6 linked regions of the Homo sapiens genome follow. The protein of the gene in region 4 purifies or fractionates together with the protein of the main gene of each other region. This does not show direct contact. Each region holds a gene or a part of one and is shown on either strand. Other genes may lie near its edges.

Region 1 (3,500 bases), on a different chromosome or scaffold from region 4:
TGAGTGTGGTGATGTGCACCTGCAGTTCTAGCTACTTGGAGGCTGAGGTGGGAGGGTTGCTGGAGCCCAGGAGATGGAGGCTGCAGTGAGCTGTGATCACACTGCTGTACCCCCGCCTGGTGACAGAGTGAGATCCTGTCTCAAAAAAAAAAAAAAAAAAAAAAAGAATGTAGTGAAATAATATATGTCAAAGCGCTGGAATTATTTTTTCTGGGATCATTAATTTTGCCATAGAACAACCCTGGGAGCATGCTTAGTGAAATTGTCAACATAGAGACATTGTACAGTTCACCATGCTTTGTTTTTCAGTCCCCAAAAGAAACTAAACATGCTTTGTTTTTCAGTCCCCAAAAGGTTTGCAGTATCAGTTTTCAAATGCATTTATAGATCATTCAGAATTCATATTAAAACTACCCTTGATGCTTATTTAAATACTGGACTTTTAATAATAGTTGCTGTGGCCTTTACTAAAAGCATTATAAGTCCTTAATTATACATTATTTATTAGTATTGGGAATTGGCTGAAAGAAATACCATCCCAGGTCAATTAGATCAACAACTACAGCATATGTCAGACAGTGGTACCAAAGCATGTCTTTTGGGAAAACAAGGTTTATGTCTAAGATTGAATTAGTTGTAGTAAAGTGGAAATACCTGGAGGTAGTGTTAGGGGAGCCTTTTGAAAAGCAATTTATTGGGGCTGAGTGCAGTAGCTCATGCCTGTAATCCCAGCACTTTGGGAGGCCACAGTGAGAGGACTGCTTGAGGCCAGCCTGGGCAACATAGTGAGACCCCATCTGTACAAAAAATTAAAATTAGCCAAGTATGGTGGTGCATACAGTCCTGGCTACTTGGGGGGCTGACATGGAAAGATCCTTTGAACCCAGGAGTTCAAAAATTCAGTAAGCTATGATCATAACACTGCTCCCTAGCCTGAGTGACAGAGTGAGACTCTGTCTCTTAAAAAAAGAAAACAATTTATTAAAGCAATGATTTTCAAACTTTAGTGTACATCAGGTTTACCTAGAAACTGCTGGGCCCCACTTCCAGCTTCTGATTTGGTACATCTGGGGTAGGGCCTGAGACTTTGCATTTCTAAGAAATTCCCAGATGCTGTTGCTGCTGTCCAGAGACCATATTTGAGACCCATGATATTAAACCAATCCAATGTACTGGTAACAGTCTAAAAGATGGATAGTTTAAAGTGTGGGTGAGATTGTGGGAAAACAGAAACACTGGAGTACTGCTGATGGGAGTGTAATTTGTTATAAACACTTTAGGAAATATCCTGATAATACCAAATAAAGTTGAAGTCCACCATGGATGGATCTAAGAAAATTTAGAATATAAAAAGCAAATCATAGACTGATAAGTATAATATGATGTCATTTATATACATTCTTTAAAAGCATACATAAATCACTATATTATTTGTAGATACATGTATGAAAATGGGAATTAGATTGGAAGGGTACCCATGAAATATGATAGTACCAAAACCCCTCAAACCATGAGGAACTATGTCTGAACCAGTGGGAATATTGTGCTTCTAGTCAAGGAATGTGATTGATCATTGTGTTCCTAAGCTGCTGTCCTACAGAGAGAAAAAATAAATTGATTCCTCTTGACAAATGAGTTCCACAAAGTTGTATGTGTTTTGGGCGGTAGAATTCTTAAACATGCATTCTTCTCAAATTTTGAGCTGCTTCCTAGCTCCTAATGTCCTGGTTATTTAGTGAATGTCTGTGTTCACTTTATCTGCCCAAGACCAAGACAAAGGGTGGTGCTGAGGAAGAGCCTTCTCCTGTGAAAGCCGGGCCCCTACCTCACCTCTTCCTGACCCAGCAAAGACACAGATAATCCCATTCTGTTCCCCAGTTTAGTAAGTGGACATGACTCTCCACTTCTGTGCTTTGTTCTGATGGAAAAGGACTATTTTCTTTCACAGAAAAGACAATTATGGAGCCATATTAATGTGGTTCAAATTCCATTTCTATCACTCATTAGCTGTTGGATTTCGAACAAGTTTTTTTTTTTTTTTTTTTTTTTTTTGAGACAGGGTCTCATTCTGTCACCCAGGCTGGAGTGCAGGCACGATCATGGCCCACTGCAGCCTCGACATCCCAGGCTCAAGCAATCCTTCTACCTCAGCTCCCCCGAGTAGCTGGGACCACAGAATCATGCCACCATAATTGGCTCATTTTTGTATTTCTTGTAGGGACAGGTTTCACCATGTTGTCCAGGCTGGTCTCGAATTCCTGAGCACAAGCAATCTGCCTGCCTTGGCCTCCCAAAGTGCTGGGATTACAGGCATATGCTACCATACCCAGCTGTTTAACCTTTCTAAGTTTAGTTTGTGATTTTGTTGTGGTCTTTTGACAAAAGGTTTTTTTTTGTTTTGTTTTAGAACAGCTTTATTGAGATAATTCATGTACCATACAATTCATATACCATACAATTCATCCATATATAGTGTACAGACAAAAATGTTATATTAACCACCTAAATTTAGTATCTCAATGGTTAGTACTCATCTAAATGCATAATTTATGCTAAATGTGAAATAGGTCTATTTTTTAAAAAAATATTTTATTTTGTTATTTTATTTTATTTTATTTTATTTTATTTTATTTTATTTTATTTTATTTGAGACAGGGTCTCAGTTTATTGCCTTGCTGGAGTGCAGTGTCACAATCACGGCTCACTGGAGCCTTGACTTCCCAGGCTCAGGCAATCCTGTCACCTCAGTCCCCCAAGTAGCTGGGTCTACAGGTACGCACTATCAGGCCCAGCTAATTTTTAAATTTTTTGTAGAGATGGGGTCTCAACTCACCTTGTTGCCCAGGCTGGTCTTGAATTCCTGGCCTCAAGCGATGCTTCTGTCTCAGTCTCCCAAAGTGCTGGGATTACAGGCATGAGCCACCGTACTGGCCTCTTTTGTTTTTTTAATAGAGATGATTATTTTGTCCTTTCTTTCTTTATACCATGCTTTCTCATATGATAGTTTCTAGTACTGTTCAACTGTGATCAAAGTATGCTTTGTTTTATAGCTTATTCTTCTCTTTGGAGGAATACCTTATCTCTGGAGACTTTCTGGACGGTTCTGTGGTTATGCTGGCTTTGGACCAGAATATGAGGTATGTGATTCATTAGCATGTATTTGTCATGGTATTTCTTTTAGCTTGGCAGGCTTTCCACTAAAGTTAATTTTTTGGCTTCTGCCAATGTTAAGATTTGCCTCTCTGTTTGCATAGTCCTTGGTTACCCATGCTGTATTGGCATAACATTAGTTACAATAACAAATCCCAGAATATCACAGGCTTATTTGCAATGGTTTATTTCTCAATCACGTAATAGTCCAGTGTGAGTATTTTTAGTTATCAGGTGACTTTCTTCCATGTGGTAAGCCAAGAATCCAGGCTCTTTATCTTAGGGATTTGTCTGTATGATTTAAGGTACCTTTCATATAGTGCCTGTGTAATAAAAAAGGAATTGTTTTG
Region 2 (3,500 bases), on a different chromosome or scaffold from region 4:
TTCCTCTGGTTCATCCCTTGAAGGCATCATGTGTGCCACTCTATTCCCCTCTGGACCAAAGACCATGGTCCTCTCTGTCATTATGCTGGAAGATTCTAAGGGCTGATGCCTTTTCTACCCTTTCTTCTGCATCATAGCCCAACAGGAGTAGGCAGCTCCCTAGATAATGGCAGCAGAGGTGCCTGTATACCCAGCAGTTCCTCCTCTTCTTGTTGTGGAGCCTCCCACTTGAGGGTTAGCAGTGTCTCTCTTCCTTGGATCCACCTGGGAAGAGCTGACATGTTGATGTGGCTAAGCACTGTAGCCACTCCCTGGGCTGCATTCCATGAGGGTCAGTGCCCTTGACCGAGTCATGTCTCCAGTGCTCTGTCCAGAGGAGGAGCTTCACAACACTGCCTGGGAGCTCAAGGATCAGTTTGGTTTTCTGTTATCAGTTAAGTGGGGAGTAGCCACTCCGGGGTCCCTTGTCCCTGGGAGGGACAGGGTGAGGATGAGCTGAGGAAGCCAGGTACAGGCAGGAGTGAAATGGAGAGATTAAGAACGAGACAGGTTCATGTCTCACCTGGAGCTGAGTTCTGCAGAAATGGCCTTGGAGGAGGAGACAGGAGCTTTCACCCCTGCCGGGTGCTCAGCTGGAGGCAGGAAAGCCGATTCCGTAGCTCAGTGGGAGGTCTCCTCTGATTACACTGTTTGACTTTCTGTCTTGCTTTCTTCTTGTCTTTCTTTTTCCTAACAATCAGTAGTAGAATTATAGCGTTCTCAGCTCCCACACAGTGGCACACCCCTGAGAAGGTTGAGTCACGACCTGTCATCCGCTGATCCTAGTTAATGCATGGTCCCCGCACAGCCAGGCTTACCTTCTGAGCAGCCTCCATCCTGAGCCAGTCTGCAGACCCCTCACCTCCCAGTCCCTCCAGCATCAGAGGCCAGAAAGTACTCTTTCTATTAAAATGAAAACAATGTACAAATGTCAAGGTCTGTCATTTACACAAAGTGCTTAATTTCTTTTTAATGCATCAAATTTTATTATTTCTGACATCTTACTGTGTTCATGCAGCTGTAAGAAAAGCACAGAGCAGGCTGGGCGCGGTGGCTCACGCCTGTAATCCCAGCACTTTGGGAGGCCGAGGTGGGTGGATCACGAGGTCAGGAGATCGAGACCATCCTGGCTAACACAGTGAAACCCCATCTCTATTGAAAAAGTACAAAAAAAATTAGCCGGGCGTGGTGGCGGGTGCCTGTAGTCCCAGCTACGTGGGAGGCTGAAGCAGGAGAATGGCATGAACCCAGGAGGCGGAGCTTGCGGTAAGCAGAGATGGCGCCACTGCACTCCAGCCTGGGAGACAGAGCAAGACTCTATCTCAAAACAAAAAAAAAAGAAAGAAAAGGACAGAGCAGTTTCTATCCCAAAAAATTCCCATCATGTCATATGGGGACAATTAGAATGTAATTATGTCCCATACTTATGCTTCTGTGAATTTTTGTGCCCAGCTCAAGGCCTCAGACTGCCTTCTGTCCAGAGAAGATGATGATGGTGATCACAGCATGGTGCCACAACCTACACGCTGCCTGCAGCTAGGGCCTCTCACCAGATGGTTGGGTTTTCAACCCAGCTCTGTGACCATGGCTGTGTATATGGCCTTGGGCAGTCACCTGCCCTCTTGGTGCCTCAATTGTCTAATCCATAGAATGGAGATAATGTCAGTTCCTACTTTGTGGGGTAGTTATGAGGCTGTAAGGCACTGGTCAGTACCTGGCACACCAGTTGCCCGTATTATTTATGCAGTTGTTTTATTTTTGTGTCTGGGGTACCTTCCCACTACCCCAACCCACTTCTGGTGGATTATGCAAAATATTTCTTTTCTTTGAGCTGGTGCTGCTGCTGCTTTTCTCAGGTGTCTGGGAATGGGACTGAGCTGCCTTACAGAGGCGGCGCAGGGGAGCATCCCGAGGGCCTCTGTGCCATAAGAATGGTTTCTCTTGATCTCTCCCCACAGGGTGTGGCCACTGTAAGAAAATGAAGCCGGAGTTTGAGAAGGCAGCAGAAGCCCTCCATGGAGAAGCGGATGTAAGCTTCCTTTCCTTCCCCCTCACCGTTCTCTTTGAAAGAATCACTGACAGGTGGAATCATTATGACTTTCCCCTGCAAGCCCTGCTGCAGCTCCCGTGGTCCGTGGAGGCCAGCAGTACCTCTGTGTGCCCAAGTAGAACATCTTAGACAGATGGGATCCTAGAGGGGGCAGAAAGACTACTGGCCCATGTTCCCGTGCCCATCCAGGTGACCTCTGCCTGCTCCCTCTTTTCTCTGGGACCCTGGCTAACAGGAACAGGTGCCAATCTACTCAACGTGGCTGGTGGGGCAGATTCAAAAGCCTCATCTCAGCTCATAAATGAGAAATGATGGCCGTGCCAATGTTCAGTTGTTCCCTGGGATATGGGAGCCCACTGGGCTAGCCACCCCAGTTAAATTCCAGCAGGTCCAGGATGGGTTGTGGGGGCAGCGTCTGGGCTCCTGTGTTCCACCAGCACCGCATCTGAGGCTGTAATGCATGGTTGGCCTTTCCCCCATCCCAGAGCTCTGGTGTCCTTGCAGCTGTCGATGCCACTGTCAACAAGGCCCTGGCAGAAAGATTCCACATCTCAGAGTTTCCTACGTTGAAGTATTTTAAGAATGGAGAGAAATACGCAGTGCCTGTGCTCAGGACAAAGAAGAAGTTTCTCGAGTGGATGCAAAAGTAAGTGTTACGATCTCAGTAGCACATCCTAACTGCCAGCTGGCGGCCCCTGGAGACCACCTTGAGGAGGTGAAGTAAACTTTATGGTCAATGTCCTGGGCTCATGCCCGTAGGAGTCAAGACGGATCTGACTTCCTCAACCCTAAAACCACCGTTCATATGCTGATCACGTGTCTTGATCAGGTCACTGCTGGCAGTCCTTCTGGACGCAGCTTCATCGACGCACTAAACCGTGTGTTGCTTTTTCTCTGTCTCAGCCTCCTTAGGCCCAGATCTTATTGTCTGCATTTTATTCCACTCCCTTTGAATAAATGAAGGAGACACAGCTCTTCATAGCCAGAGCTAGACTCATTTCGTCCAGGTTTGCTAGTGGTTGGCTGGGCCTCCAGTAATGTCCACAGGGCAGGCTATGGTGGTTTGCAACTGAGGATAAAGATTTTGAAGAGCCCCCTCAGCCTATGTATTAGTTTGCTAGTGTTGCCATAACCAAGTAACAGACCAGGTGGCTCAACAATATAATATAACAATATAACAGAAGTTTATTTTCTTACAATTTTGTTTTGTTTTGTTTTGTTTTGAGACAGTCTCACTTAGTCACCCAGGCTGGAGGCATGATCTCGGCTCACTGCAACCTCCACCTCCCAGGTTCAAGCGATTCTCCTGCCTCAGCCTCCCAGGTAGCTGGGATTACAGGCACATGCCACCATGCCTGGCTAATTTTTTGTATTTTTAGTAGAGACGGGGTTTCACCATGTTGCCCAGGCT
Region 3 (3,965 bases), on a different chromosome or scaffold from region 4:
ACTGCACTGAAAATGGCCATGTGAATGTGAGTTTGAGAAAGGTCACATATGGTAAAGTTTTCATGTTGCCACATTTTCTGCATACTCTGTAACCAGGAATGATTTGACTGTATAAATTTATCTTACAGACACACTTGTTTGTACATTTAATGCCTGCTTTCTATAATATGAAAAAATACACAGAACGTTTTATGCAATTGGCTCTGAGTAATGCAACACATAAATGCTTTGAGAGCAGTTACCAAAAATTATGCAGGTTATTACAAAAGTTATATGGAATTGCACAGATATTCTAAATGTGCTTTTGAGTAAATTTCTCAGCTACCAGAGGCCTGGGCAGCTGTTTCCAGCACATCCTGGCACAACATTCATGTTATCATCCACTTATGTATTCCACAATTTCAAATGATTGATAAGACACCTCCCCCATCTTTGCTTCCTCTTGGAGGAAAAAAATATACAAGCAATCACGAGCACAGGAGCAGGTGGACAACTACATCTTAGGAAAGGGTGCGTAACTGTGAACTCTAAACGTGAGCTGGGTGCCTGATGCAGTATAGGAACCACAGTAAGTCGATAATCAGTGAGGCTGGAGGATTGAAATTTTATTTGGTAAAGAATATTGAGCCAGGCGCGGTGGCTCATGCCTGTAATCCCAGCACTTTGGGAAGCCGAGGCGGGCAGATCACAAGGTCAGGAGATCGAGACCAGCCTGGCCAACATAGTGAAACCTGCCTCTACTAAAAATACAAAAAATTAGCCGGGCATGGTGGCGGGCACCTGTAATTCCAGCTACTCAGGAGGCTGAGGCAGGAGAATGGCTTGAACCTGGGAGGTGGAAGTTGCAGTGAGCTGAGATCGTGCCATTGCACTCCAGCCTGGGAGACAGTGTGAGACTCCATCTCAAAAAAAAAAAATGAATATTGAAATAGAGTCTATAGGAAAAAAACTCCTTGAATCTAGTAAATGTGGAATCACAAAATTGAAATAATGTGCATCTGAAAAGTGAATAAATAGATGCCAAGAAGGAGTGAGTCATAAGCACATGAGTTGTAAGAGGTTGAACTTGAGAGACCAGATCAGGCAGTGCCGCTTAATACCATCACATGATCCTCCCCGAGGCCCTGTATTTAATTAAAATAGAGAGGGAGGCACCACAGATGCCAGAAGAACACTGTTGCTCTTGGTGGACGGGCCCAGAGGAATTCAGAGTTAAACCTTGAGTGCCTGCGTCCGTGAGAATTCAGCATGGAATGTCTCTACTATTTCCTGGGATTTCTGCTCCTGGCTGCAAGATTGCCACTTGATGCCGCCAAACGTGAGTAACCCTTAATTTCTATGTTTAACCCATTCTCTGGCCATTGGCTGAAATGATGGCTAATAATATCCTCTGAACTAGAGGTTGGACTGAAGTTCTTCAGGAAGCTTTCATCTCTGGCTCACTCATCTCTTCTTCTGCAAACTGTTGGGAAGGCTGAAACTACAGCAAAATGCCTCCAGCTCCATTCTTTGCTTTCGGCTCATGGAAAGTAAAAACTATGCTGCCCTTCTCTTGTGAAGCTTCTTTTCCATTGCAATTGCAACCCATTCTTGCCAGACAGTGGTTGGGGGAGGGTTGGACAGCCTCCGGCCACAGAACAAAGCAACTCCACCAACTAAACTATGTCCAGCTTCCATCCAAAAGGGTGGAGACCTCACATGAAATGGGGTCTCCAATCTGGAGGCAAATTTACGAATCTCCCCAGCCCTGAAGCTATTGCTCCTCCTGCGGGGCTTCCTCACAGACCTGCAGGAGCTTGCTGGGAGAGGAGCTGAAGCCCAGGCTCTCTACCCTGGTCAGGCAGGAGAGGCCAGGGCATTTTTAACAATACTGATACCCACGCAATGAAACCGGAATCTTTGGGAGTGGGGTCAGAGGATCCTTGTTTTAAAAGTTCCTCTTGGGATCTGCCTATGCAGCCAGGGTCCAGACCACTGAAGCAGTGTGCAGATTCGCGAGAGGAAGAGAGCTGAGCCGCTGTAACCCTGGGCCTGGGATTGCGGGGACGGGACGGGTGGGAAGCGGCCAAAGGCGCAGCGGCTTCTGGTCAGAGCCGCAGAGGCCTGAGACGTGGGCCGCGCCCCGGCCCAGGAGACCCCGCGGCCGCGCCCTAACCCTCAGTCTCCCGACTGCGACTGCGACCCGGGAAAACGCCTACGTTTTTGGAAAGGAAGTCCCATCACAGGGAGCTGACCCGGTGTCAGCGCGCAGCACGTTCCCGGCCCGCAGTGCGCCGCGCGTCCTCCTAGCAGCCCGCGGAGCCCGGCACTGTGATGGTCCCGCTTCCCACACGAGGCCACGGGCCACAGAGTGGGCAAGGAACTCGCCCCAAGCCACACAGCGGGTAAGTTGAGGAGGCAGCCTTCCATCCCGACCTCTGTCCTTCCTGCCCGGGTTTGGGGTTGGACAGGCTCGGGCTCCCCGCCAGCCTAGGGGCTGGGTCTCCAGTGGCTTTGCTCCATTTCCTCATTTCCTTCAAAACGAGGAGTTTTCGTTTCCTCATTTGCAAAACTGGGTAATTGTGTTCTTGTGAGATCAGCTGCTTGGCGTGAGAGACGTGCATGGTGGGGATTGTTCCTACGGAGGCAGACCTGCACCCACCCTCAGGATACCTCCCAGGACAGGCTACTTTAAAGACGAAGGAACACAGAATAGACCCGATGGGGGACACCTGCTATTATTCCACCCTCTTTCACCAGTCCACTTCGCTCTGCTCAATAAAACAGATTAGCAGGAGGCCGAATCAGCGCTGTCAGCTCGAGAGGAGTCCTCAGCCTCTTGGGCAGTGTAACAAAACCCAGCCATTCACCAGGTTCACCTTGCTCTGGACTAAATATTCTGCCCAGAAAAAAATAAGGGCAGGCAGAATGTAGCAGTGTATCAAGCACTAAAGATTTCCTACCATTTTCCATTCGTAGCCCTGAAGGAAGGAGAAAGTGTGGACAAGGTAGGTGGAGGCAGCCCAGCCACCACCTCTCTGCTGGTGGACACAGCAAGGATGCCAAAGTGTGGAGGCAGAGTCGGCTGCAGCACTGGGTGCGACCTCAAATTTACCTTCACATTGATTGCCCCCAAAACCCACCCCCACAGGCTTTTATTTTTCTTTTAAAATCTGCTTACTATTGGGTTTTTTTTTTTTTAATCAATTTTTTTAGAGACAGGGTCTTACTCTCACCCAGGCTGGAGTGCAGTGGTGTGATCACAGCTCACTGCAGCCTCCAACTCCTGGGCTAAAGGTGATCTTCCACCTCAGCCTCCTGAGTAGCTGGGACCACAGGCACGTGCCACCACACCCAGATAATTTTTGTATTTTTTGTAGAAATGGGATCTTACTACATTGCCCAGGCTGGCCTCAAACTTCTGGGCTCAGTCCTCCCTTGGCCTCCCAGAATGCTAGGACTACAGGCATGAGCCACCTTATCCGGATGGGTTTATTTTATTTTTTAAATTTTTGTAGAGACAGGGTTTTGCCATGTTGCCCAGGCTGGTCTGGAACTCCTGGGCTCAGGCAATCGCCCACCCTCAGCCTTCCAAAGTGTTGGGATTACAGGCATGAGCCATTGCATCCGGCCTTTATTTTTAAATTCAACTTTTTATTGTGAGGTATTTATAGATTCACATACTGTTGTAAGAAATAATACAGAGAGATCCCCATGCACCCTTTACCTGGTTTGCCCCAGTGGTATCATCATGCAAAACAGGACATCACAGCCCAGATATTGACATTGATACAGTGAAAACACAGCAGAGCTCCATCACCAAAGTATTCTCATGGCTATAGATGTATAGCCAAATCTACTTCCCTCTTTCCAAACCTCACCCAGTCCCTGGCAACCACTAATCTGGTTTCCATTTTTATCATTTTGTAATTTCCAAAATTCTATACAAATGGAATTATCCAGTATGTAACCTTTTGAGATTTGCT
Region 4 (3,500 bases):
AGGCTTAAACATGAGCATTCTTAGTCCAATTCCAACTGTCTTTCCATTACACCTCTCCTTTTTTGTTTTGTTTTGTTTTTTTTAAGACAGAGTCTCACTCTGTTGCCCAGACTGGAGTACAGTAGCATGATCTTGGCTTACTGCAACCTCCGCCTCCCTGGTTCAAGCAATTCTCCTGCCTCAGCCTCCCGAATAGCTGGGATTACAGGCATGCACCACCATACCCGGCTAATTTTTGTATTTTTAGTAGAGATGGGGTTTCACCATGTTGGCCAGGCTGGTCTCGAACTCCTGACCTCAGGTGATTCACCCGCCTTGGCCTCCCAAAGTGCTGGGATTACAGGTGTGAGCCACTGTGCCCGGCCTCCATTACACCTCTTTATTCTAGTTCAACTCAGACCGTGAAGTTAGCATACAGGTCCTCAGGAGTTTGAGGCCACTTCCCAAGGATAAGGCCACCTTCAGGCACATCTGCCTTAAACATCAATTTGTGAAGCTTTGGGAGAGGGGAGAACATACTTTTTTTTAATATAAACATGGGTATGAACTAGAGTGAAATTTGTGTGAATTTTTCACATAAGACAGGAGAATTCAAAGAAATTTCATGTATGTTAGTGGCTGCTTTAACTAAAGCCCTCCAGGGTATACATTCATTTTTCTTTGCTGCTGCAAGTACACCAACGAGAAGTCTGGGAAGCTCTGAGTTAGTGGGCAGTTTAATGGTGTTGCCAGATCAAGATGACCAGAATTCAGAGCAGTCCACAAAATTATAGATGCATGAGTAACCAAAATAATGCATTTTACATTTTCTTTCTTTTCTAGAATTCCAGGTTACCGAGTTGGTTGTTATTACTGCCTTTTCCAAAATGAAAAACTGCTTCCTGAAACAGTAACGATAGACTCTGAACGTAACCCTTCAGAATATGTGGTCTGTTTTTTAGGAGGGTCTGAAAAAGGACTTGAGCTATATCCTTTCTTTGGTTTTTGAGAACATCAGGAAGGAAAACATGGGAAGGCAGGTGGAAGAATATTACTACCAACCTCCAAAAAGCTTTTCTACTCCTCGTGTATTTAGTTGAATTTCATACCTTCATGTGGCCATTTTGCCTTGGCTTGTTTGCATTTGCAGCTCACATTATTTGAGAGATTTTATATTTCTTGTTGAGAGATGAAATACTGTCTTCATTATTCATCCTTTATTGCTTCCTTAAGAACATACTTTCAGGCTTGAATTGGACAAGTACATTCAAGGGCTGAAAAATAACATGAATTGTGAGGTAAGGTGACTGACTTAATGGTTTTTAAAGACTGAAATGGGGCCAGGCTCAGTGGCTCACGCCTGTAATCCCAGCACTTTGGGAGGCCGAGGTGGGCAGATCACAAGGTCAGAGACCAGCCTGGTCAATATGATGAAACTTCATCTCTACTAAAACTTAGCCAGGCATGGTGGCAGGCACCTGTAGTCCCAGCTACTTGGGAGGCTGAGGCAGGAGAATCGCTTGAACCCGGGAGGCAGAGGTTTCAGTGAGCCGAGATTGCACCACTGCACTCCAGCCTGAGCGACAGAGTTAAAAAAATAAAATAATGACTGAAATGATTAATATACTGTGATTGCTCTACTTGTCAAATCATATAGGTAGACACAAAGACGCCTGTATTCTAGAAACTTGCCACCTTGTGAGCTAGTAGAGAGGTGAATTTTTTTTTTTTTTAGACAGGGTCTTGCTTTGTTGCCCAGGCTGCAGGGCAGTGGCGCGATCAGGCTCACTGCAGCCTCAGCTTCTTGGGGCTCAAGCAGTCTTCTCGCCTCAGCCTCCTAAACAGCTGGGACTACAGGCAAATACCAACACGCCTGGCTAACTTTTGGTATTTTTTGTCGAGATGGGGATCTCACTTTGTTGCCCAGGCTGGTCTAGGATTCCTGGCCTCAAGCAATCCTCCCTCCTCAGCCACCCAAAGTGCTGAGATTACAGACACGAGCCATTGTGCCCAGCCTACAGGTGGTTTCTTTTTCTTTTTCATTTTTTGAGATAGGGTCTCACTCTATCACCCAGGCTGGAGTGCAGTGGCACGATCATGGCTTACTGCAGCCTTTTCTGGGCTCCAGCGATCCTCCCACCTCAGCCTCCCAAGTAGCTGGTACCACAGGCATGCACCACCATGCCCAGCTAATTGTATTTTTGGTAGAGGTGGGGTTTTGCCATATTGCCCAGGCTTGTCTTGAACTCTTGAACTGCTGAGCTCAAGTAATCCACCTGCCTCGGCCTCCCAAAGTGCTGGGATTACAGGTATGAACCACTGCACCCAGCCTACAGGTGATCTTAAAGGGATACAGGAAACATAGTCCTGTAAGTGCTGAAAGTTTCACAAGACTACGTCTGATGTTTTGTATCTATGAAAAATTCGATCTATTCAATGGCATGTAGTAACATGCCTGGCGAGGAAGAGGATGTCCTTTTCCTGATTTCTAGGCATATAAGATTTATATTATGGTCAGAAGTACTGGTCCATGCAGCCTCTGGCACCAAAGACATGCTATGCAATAGTATGGCTGTTCTTGAACTAAACATCAAAGATTCTTAAAAACATTCTATTTTCATTAATTGATCTTTTATGAATTAGGCATATCCATATCAACTTATTCAAACCTTTGAAAAACTGGCTGGGTGTGGTGGCTCACACCTGTAATCTCAGCACTTTGAGAGGCCAAAGCGGGCAGATCACTTGAGCCCAGGAGTTCAAGGCCAGCCTGGGCAACAAAGTGAAACCCCATCTCTACAACAAATACAAAAATTAGCCAGGCATGGTGGCACGCACCTGTAGTCCCAGCTACTTGGGAGGCTGAGGTGGGAGGATCGCTTGAGCCTGGGAAGTTGAGGCTGCAGTGAGCTATGATTGCACCACTGCACTCCAGCCTGGATGACAGAGTGAGACCCTGTCTCAAAAAAGCAAACAAAAACAATGCTTTCAGCTTGTAGCAGTTGTTAGTCATGACTCTCACAAATTTACTACCCATTACATATATAGTAGAAGTTATACTTTTCACATACTTAGAAGATACTGCAGGAGAGAGGAAGGGATAGTGCAGGAGTGAGCAACTGATGCAAGTCTAATAGAGTTGTTCTCCCGGACTAGAGCTCTTCGTGTGTGACACTAGTCTTCAGGGAGCAGTATAGCCTAGAAAGCCAGATGTGCTCACGGTAGCATGTCTGACATCTGGAGTGGAGTGGAGTGCTTTGATGAGTTACTTGTATCCTTCCCCATTCACATTCTGAATACGAATGAATTCTCTATCTACATGACTAATTCAAAAGGCACTTAATAAGCTCATACTATGCATGTTTTAGACACTGTACCACAGGTGCCAGGGAAATGAGGATTATTGAGTGAGTATCTCCATTGAGTGCACAGTACAGTGGGAGGAGAGGGACTTGTGAGTGCCCAACTCTTCCCTGTGAAGAAATAGCATGGAACCCTATTCAGTCTCTTCATTTTATAGA
Region 5 (4,266 bases), on a different chromosome or scaffold from region 4:
CTTGTTAAGCACACTTGTCAGACACTGTTTCCAGGACTCTCTTAAGTGTCCTAAGAATATTGACTCATTCAAAAGCAGCCCAGCTGTAGTTGGGAGAGCACCAGCACTTGCTCTATAAAGATCTAGATTGTCTCTCTACCTCAAGAGGAATCCAAAATCCTGTTATGCTGGACTCTGAAATGATCCCCAGCCCTTTGGTGATCACACTGTTTATGAGCAGTCTGAATTCCATTCTTGGGTCTACCTAAACTAGCACCCTCGGGCTATGGGGCCCAGTGGGGAGACCACCTAGCATGCTGGCTGCCTGGAGCCCAGGGAACTGTCAAGATGGCTCTGGAAGACTTCTCGCCTTTTAAAAGCCCCGTATTTCTTTTACATATATTTTTGTCCTCATGAATTTTGCCAACCGCAATGGACTAAAATCTATTATAGCGTCCTGGAAAGGTGGGGAAAAGATGGGATAGTTGAGGAGAGTTTAATGAAGGGACTATTTAAAAAGGTGTGGATGGGGTTAAAGGAAACCTCTGGGCGTCATTACCCACTCCAGGCCTGAAGGGGCAAGGGTAGTTAGTGGTAACCAGAACCTGGAGAAAACTGCAGGAGAGGGCCACAGGATGGGAGTAATGGCTTTCAGATGAAGAACATAGCCACTGCTAACAGGGTGGCCCGCTGGGGATGCAGGGGAGGTCCTGAATCACATCCTGCCTTCTGATCTGCAGGTGCCTCCCACTTGCCAAAACCAATTGAAAGCCAGATTATAGTTGACGTAGCCCATAAAGGTCAGTCCTGAGTCACAGAGCAGAGTGGAGAGTGGGTCTGAAGGGACAGAGGAAAAACCAGCAAGCACCTCCTGTTTTTTCCCACAGCCAGCACCTTGGTTCAGCCCTTACCCTTTCTTGCCTGTCCCCTGGACCCATCAAATCCACTGCTTTTAATGACCAGTCTGTTTCCAAGAGGCTATATTCATTCCACTTGGGACTGGGGCATATGCACTTGGGTAGAAGAACCAGCTGTGCAGTGTCAAGACCCTTCCCTCAGAGACCTTATCAGTAAAATGGCGGGTGGACTCGGGGATGCCCGAAGACTTTTCCGGACCACGATTTTCCGATGCTGGACACATATTTAAACATGAAGGAATAGACTTGCGACTTTTAAGCGCAAACAATGGGTGGAAATGGACAGAAACTGCCTCCGTGCCCACTTGCAGCGGACTACGTAGCCCTGGCAGACAGGCAATTGCTTCAAACAAGCGCCCTCCAAGGGCGTAAGCTAGAGGGGCCCGGGCGGGCGCTTTCCCGTGGACCCTCCCACCTCGCGGGTAGAGGAAGTCCTTCAGTTCAGGCACAACCCTGAGCGTCCCCCGCAGTCTCCAACTCCGGCGCCAGTCAGGTTGTGGGGTGGGGGCGGCGGAGGGCGGAGAGCGCAGGCGCAGAGTCCGCGCGGCGGCGCCCCTCTCCCTCCGCAGTACTCCGGGCAGCGCCCGCCTCGATTTTCCCAGGCGAGGGCACGCCCGCGTCAGTCGCCTCCGGGGCACCTTCCTCGCCACGACACGCAGGTAACCGGGCCCCGGGAGCCGGTCGGCGGCGGCGGACTGGGACCTTGATCCTGCCTGCCCGGCCGCCCGACAAGGGAATGAGAGCGGACCCCGAACTCCACACACCCGCGTTTAGCCGCCACACCTAAGGGGCACAACAGTCTTTTTGGGTAAGGGCCGGGCTGGGGGCGACGCGCCCCGCCCGCTTTGCAGACTTCGGGGTGCTCTGCACGACGCCTGAAAGGCCGCGGGGCCCGCATTTCTCTGTGCTGCCCTCCTGGAGAACCGGGACACGGGGACGGGAGGGCCAGCATCGGCTACGGCCCGGTTTCCCGTTTCTTTCCGCTGTCGCGTGTCTGGGCCCTCCTGCAGCGTCCATGATGAAGGCCAGGGGCTGTTGCTTTCCTCTCGCCCAGTAGCCAACCCAAGCAAGGGGTGAGTCACTGTGGCGTCATATGGGATCAATTTCAAATACAAGTTTTAAAAAAGGCTGGATGATTTTAGAAATATGGCCAAGAATTTGTATTTTCCATTACTCTCTTGTCTCATGTCCATGACTCTTGAACGCCAGTCTGTGGGCGCTGAGATTTTCGTGGTACATCGACGGTTTGTAGACATCTTTTCCCAAGGGAAGACGAGGGCAAGGGTTAGTGGAGGAAGGGCCTCGTCACGGCCGAGAGTGGCGGAGAAGGCTCAGGGCAAGTCCGCACAGCCTCCAGCAGCCACGGGGAGGAAAAGGCGAATCTTTCCTCACAGTGCTCTGGGCGCTGTAGAATTTCTACGCCACGTGCACCCATTTGGCCTCATTTGAGAGGAGGAGAGGGAAGAAGGGTCGCGCGGGCCGGCAGGAAAGAGACTCGTGTTGCGGCGGATGAAGGCTCAGCGCGGACCTGCATCTCGGGCCAGGTTTTCTTTCACCCGGCTCCGCGAGGAGCGAGGCGGAAAGCTCGGGTCCGAGTGTTGATCGAGGACCTGGAGATAGTAACCCCCCACGTCCAGAGTGCTGGGGGTGGGTCCAGAGGGCTGGGGGTAGGTCCAGAGGGCTGGGGGTAGCTCCGGAGGAGCGATCTTCCTCCGCGGGAAAGGACTTGGCTCAGGCTTGCCTATGTCCGTGGTGCTGAAGTGCCTCGCGCGCCCTCGTCGACTGACTTCCTGGGCCGCGGCCTGCGTTGCCCTTCTACTCTGCACCTTTGCCAAAAATAGCCCATCTCCATGGCTGGTGGCCAGAGTGGAGCAGGCCCAACACTGAAACTCTTTTCAGACAAGTTGAGGCTGGTTTCCTGAACATAACCCGAAAGCAAATGTGGCTTGCCTTGGAGGTACAGATAAGCATATGCATAACAGATTTTATTACCTATGAGAAAGTACACACCATGAGCGTAAACAGGAATTCTCACATATACTTATGAAAGATACAGGTATGTGCATTTACGCACAAACCTAACACACATGCAAATACACTCATCCCTTTTGAAAACCATTACACACTACAAGCCACACATTTTTTAGAGCTTTTGTAATCCATCTTTATTTTTTGACACTTCTAGTAAATGTGAACTCTGCAGAGCCATTTATTTTCATAATCATCTGTTCCAAAGGCACAGAGCCTGTGGATTGAAGTGTTTGGTATTTGGCTGAGCAATTAAGTATTTATACTCATTTACATTCCAGAACAAAAGTCTAGGAAGATGTAAAATTGATATTGATACCAAAAAAATTCCTTAAAGAAAGCTTAAGGAAAATGAATTAATGTAAATTTTAATAAGAACAACATATAAATAATCATAGAAATTTATAATCTTAACATATGACTAAAATGTATCATAATGCAGACAATTTTAAATATATTGGTGGTATGTGGTTTGTGTGAAGTTCTTAAAGTTTACATTTGTATTTTTCAAAAACATTGGTATTGTTTTTTCCTTAAAAAATATATGCTCATTATAAGAATTTTAGGTAATAGAGAAATGCATAAACATAGAAAACCATTGTAAACAGATTTTCATTTAGATGAACATGCATACATTTTAAATGGACCAATCCTCTATTGGTTGCGTTTTTGCTATATAATTTATAATTAATGTCTTTCATCATAAAACTAGGTCATCATTATTAAGGGTTGCATAATATTGATCTGTGTGGATAGAATGTAAGTTTTTTAAACAATCCCATAATGAACATTTATGTCCAATTTTTTAGACTTAAAAAAATTATTGTGGAAAGAATATGTAACATGAGATCTATCCTCTGAACAAAAAAAAAATTTTTTTTTGAGACATTGTCTTGCTTGTTGCCCAGACTGGAGTGCAGTGACGTGCTCTCCGCTCACTGCAACCTCTGCCTCCCGGGTTCAAGGGATTCTCCTGCCTCAGCCTCTTGAGTAGCTGGCCACCGCACCCAGCTAGTTTTTATATTTTTAGTAGAGACAGGGTTTTACCATGTTGGCCAGGCTGGTCTTGAACTCCTGTCCTCAGGTTATCTGCCTGCCTTGGCTTCCCAAAGTGCCAGGATTACAGGCGTATGCCACTGCACCCGGGCCTGCCTTCTTAACAAAATTTTACGTGTATAATACATTATTGTTGATATGTATTGTTGATAGGTGCAATGCTGTATAGCAGATCTTTAGAGCTTATGCATCTTGCTTGACTGAGACTTTATGCCTGTTGATTAATAACTCCTGATTTTCCCCTGCCCTCCAGTCCCTGGAAACCACCATTCTACTCCTCGATTCT
Region 6 (3,500 bases), on a different chromosome or scaffold from region 4:
AAATGGGTAGCCAGGGAGGCAGCAGTTACCCACTCCAGGGTAAGGCCATACGCCAAGTAGCTGTCATCCATGGGCCCCACAGAGATCACCTAGGCTAGGGCCTTGCTGTAATCCACAGCGTCTGAGTCTCAGGTGGGACTGGGGAGCCAGTAGCAGTCAGCTCAGAGCAGCAGGGCAAGGGTGGCTGGGCAGTTGGGTGGGAGTAATCCCAGCCTTCCCCCTCCCTGCCATCCCCAGTCCCAGGATTATACCCAGTTATCTAGAATCCTCACACCTGCCTGCCCTGTGTGTGAGATCCTTGTGCAAGGGGGGCCCTCAACCCTCCCCAAAGGAAAGTGGTCACCCCCAACCATGAATGGGCAGGACAGGCCTTGACTCCCTGATCAGCTTTTCACCCACTTCCTTCGGAGCCCAGCCCAGCACTCCCCATGGCCTCAAGTTTTGGGTGGGATTTGGGTTTGGGTGGGGAATTACCTCTTCTTCTTCCTGATGTACAAAACCTGCAAGAGAAGGAGCAGCATCAAATGGCAAGGAGAGGAGGCCCTGAGGAACCCAGCAGCCCTTCTGGATGGGGACATGCTGAGGCTGATGAACAAGAGACCCGTGGGTCCCCGTCCTAATGACACATACACCACTCCCCCTTCACCTTCATGCCTCTTTTTTTTTTTTTGAGACAGAGTCTTGCTCTGTCACCCAGGCTGGAGTGCAGTGGCACAATCTCGGCTCACTGCAACCTTCGCCTCCAAGGTTCAAGTGATTCTCCTGCCTAAGCCTCCTGAGTAGCTAGGATTACAGGTGTGCACCACCACACCCGGCTAATTTTTGTATTTTTAGTAGAGATGGGGTTTTACCATGTTGGCCAGGCTGGTCTTGAACTCCTGACCTTGTGATCCACCCGCCTCGGCCTCCCAAAGTGCTGGGATTACAGGCGTGAGCCACCACACTGGCCCCATGCCTCCTTTTGACATTGTTAGCTGCAGACAGTGCCCAGACTGAGTCTGGGGACTCAAGAGGCTCCCTCCAGCCTGGGAGCCCACACAGTTAGGCCCGGCCTGGGGACTGGTGGGCCCCACCTATTGGCTGGGCTGCCAATACTAACTGTAGCTCCAGCCACTCAGCACCTGCCTGTGGCTCCCCAGGGCTGAAGAAGAAAGGGAAAACTTCAGCACATTCCCTCCCCTCAACTCTTCCCAGGCTCAAAGCCACATGCAGGCAAAAAGTAAAGGGACCCGGTAAGGTAGCACATGCCTGTAGTCCCAGTTACTCAAGAGGCTGAGGCAGGAGGATCTCTTGAGCCCAGGAGTTCAAGTCCAGCCTGGGCAACATACTGACACCCCGTCTCTACAACATGTAAAAAGAACCAGAGACAGGCAGTGGCCAGACTCTGTAGCGTGTAGAGCAGTGGCTCTAGGCAAGGCCCTGAGCTGGTGGTCTCCGGAGTTCCTATGGGAGGCTGACGGCCCCCAGTGGACTAAGGTAGGGGTGGGGGACTGGAGCCCCTAGGCATCAGCCCAGGTCAACTCCCAAAAACTCTGATGCAAGAGGAACCTAAGAAGGCCCCTAGGTCCGGTCCCCCATTGTACAACCTTGAAGATGAGGGCCTAGGCAGCCTGAGAAAACATCTAGGACCTCTAGGCCAGAGTAAGAAACCCTGTACAATGCCCTGAGGAGAGGGAGGAAGTGGGTAAGACTTGGGGGACCACCTTGGGCGGGGAATCCAGGGACTTCTGCCATCATCCTGCTCTTCCCTAAACTGGCAGTTTCTGACTACCAGGAGCATGACTACCTCTGCCTCGGGGAAAGCACAGCCCTGTGGTTTACCCCAAATCCTCCCACATTCTTTGTGCCCCATTCACAGCTTGAATCTGGTTTGATTTCCAGCCTGGCCCAGAGCTCCTCCTGCAGGACCCCCAAAACCTGAAAAGAAACTAGGGTATCAATCCTCACTCTCCCCTCCTGTCCAGGGTTGCATGTAGGGGTGCTCCCTTGCTCTCCTGTGGGTAGGCTGTGACAGGAACTCTGGGGTCTTCTGGCCTAGCCCCTGCCACCCTGAGCAAGTGGATCCAGCCCCAGCCCCAGCCCCTGTGGTCCCCACCTCTCAGCCCTTGCCCCAAGCCCTCCTCCCTCCCCTGAGACCCTGGGATTCAGAAGGATCTACAGAAAAGGCCAGAACCTTTACGCAATTTCCATGCCTTTTCCCCTCTTCCTCAGCTAACAGCCACCCCCACACCTTCCTTTCCAAATCTTCCCTACCCCTCACTGTCCAGCAGGTGCAGCCCCCTCTCCTCCAGGAACCTCCCCCACCACTGATCCTGGTCTGCCTGTACCAAGCACTTTTCCTTCCTGGGTAAGGCAGAAAGCCTGGTGCAGATTTGCTCCTCCTTGTACCCACGGCCCTGCTTGAGGCTGGCATCGGGGAGAGGAAGCAGCACTCAGTGAGCACCTCTGGGCCTGTCTCCGGTCCCCAGGAGCTATCTTCTGCCCTCCGCTGCCTTTGTCCTACGAGCTTCCTACCTCTGATTTTGGCAAGAGGGGCATCCACCCAGGCCTTCTGAATGTTCCTCTAGAACAAAGAGTAAGAGAGCGTTCTCAAGTTCCAAGGACAAAACCTTTCACTGAAAGTAACGAGGGCAGTTTCTAGGCCCCATTCTGCCCTTAAGGGTGCCTCCATCTGCTTACCCACTGCATGGGTGCCAAGGGAAAACACTGGCATCCTGCCTTACCTCCACCCAGGAGACCTCTCAGGCCCTGGCCTCATTCTGCCTGTGCTGCACCCTGGGCCTGCTTGCTGGCTGGCAGTTGCTCCCTGGCAGCAATCTGGAGCCTGTGGGGCCCATATGGCAACCCTGGTTTAACAGCAGCTCCAACCAGGCCATGATGGGCCATCCACAGCCCTACTTGTCAGAGCAACATGCTCCTAAGCCCAAGGCCAGCCATCAGAGCCTGCGAGGAGCAGTGGGCAGAATCCTACCATTGCCAGGCATACTGGGGAACCTCAGGGGCACCCCATCCTCCCTAGTCTCAGCCTGCACGATCTCCAGTGGTCCCTCAGTGACATTCTGAGTGTCCATGTATCATCTTAGGGGGACAGCCCATATCCTTAGGGACTGACACCAGATCAAGAGGCATCACACTCACTACTGAAGGATACCTGCAGCCCTCTCCCCAGCCCCCTTCCTTCCTGATGGCTGCCACCTCCACCCCTTCTCATGACACGGAGGCCAGGCTTCCACTTTGAGGTCTCAGCTCTAATTTTGCTCCTCAGCTGTTCCTAACCACCTAGTCTGGAAAGCATTCCTGCTTTCCTGCTTGAGTCCCCAAGTCAGTCCCTGCAGGCTTCCCTTGGAACCCTTGGTTTTTATCTGTTTCCCACTCCCTGTAAGAACCACAGGGCAGGACCTTGTCTTCCCAGCCTCTATTGGGTTCCAAAGGCCTGGTCCAGGGCAGGTACTCAGTAAATAATTGCCAAGTGAATAAATGAATGTTCACTGCCAACAGCC

What was found.
Region 1: the proteins of C17orf75 (region 4) and ZMPSTE24 fractionate together in Homo sapiens (co-fractionation; one large-scale study listed by BioGRID). This does not show direct contact.
Region 2: the proteins of C17orf75 (region 4) and PDIA5 fractionate together in Homo sapiens (co-fractionation; one large-scale study listed by BioGRID). This does not show direct contact.
Region 3: the proteins of C17orf75 (region 4) and GPNMB purify together in Homo sapiens (affinity purification with mass spectrometry; one large-scale study listed by BioGRID and IntAct). This does not show direct contact.
Region 5: the proteins of C17orf75 (region 4) and SLC35G2 fractionate together in Homo sapiens (co-fractionation; one large-scale study listed by BioGRID). This does not show direct contact.
Region 6: the proteins of C17orf75 (region 4) and C3orf18 fractionate together in Homo sapiens (co-fractionation; one large-scale study listed by BioGRID). This does not show direct contact.

Annotation. Positions count from the first base shown.
Region 1 is NC_000001.11:40,264,736-40,268,235, forward strand, and holds part of ZMPSTE24 (CAAX prenyl protease 1 homolog), read left to right. Parts: intron 1-3,050; coding exon 3,051-3,137; intron 3,138-3,500. UniProt on the Homo sapiens protein: Transmembrane metalloprotease whose catalytic activity is critical for processing lamin A/LMNA on the inner nuclear membrane and clearing clogged translocons on the endoplasmic reticulum.
Region 2 is NC_000003.12:123,143,525-123,147,024, forward strand, and holds part of PDIA5 (protein disulfide-isomerase A5 precursor), read left to right. Parts: intron 1-1,997; coding exon 1,998-2,068; intron 2,069-2,574; coding exon 2,575-2,735; intron 2,736-3,500.
Region 3 is NC_000007.14:23,245,610-23,249,574, forward strand, and holds the start of GPNMB (transmembrane glycoprotein NMB isoform b precursor), read left to right. Parts: upstream 1-1,165; 5' UTR 1,166-1,248; coding exon 1,249-1,318; intron 1,319-3,965. UniProt on the Homo sapiens protein: Could be a melanogenic enzyme.
Region 4 is NC_000017.11:32,335,674-32,339,173, reverse strand, and holds part of C17orf75 (protein Njmu-R1), read left to right. Parts: intron 1-822; coding exon 823-966; intron 967-1,219; coding exon 1,220-1,277; intron 1,278-3,500. UniProt on the Homo sapiens protein: As component of the WDR11 complex acts together with TBC1D23 to facilitate the golgin-mediated capture of vesicles generated using AP-1. May have a role in spermatogenesis.
Region 5 is NC_000003.12:136,817,660-136,821,925, forward strand, and holds the start of SLC35G2 (solute carrier family 35 member G2), read left to right. Parts: upstream 1-1,466; 5' UTR 1,467-1,969; exon of another isoform or gene 1,970-2,853; intron 2,854-4,266.
Region 6 is NC_000003.12:50,561,248-50,564,747, forward strand, and holds part of C3orf18 (uncharacterized protein C3orf18), read right to left. Parts: intron 501-3,500; coding exon 475-500; intron 1-474.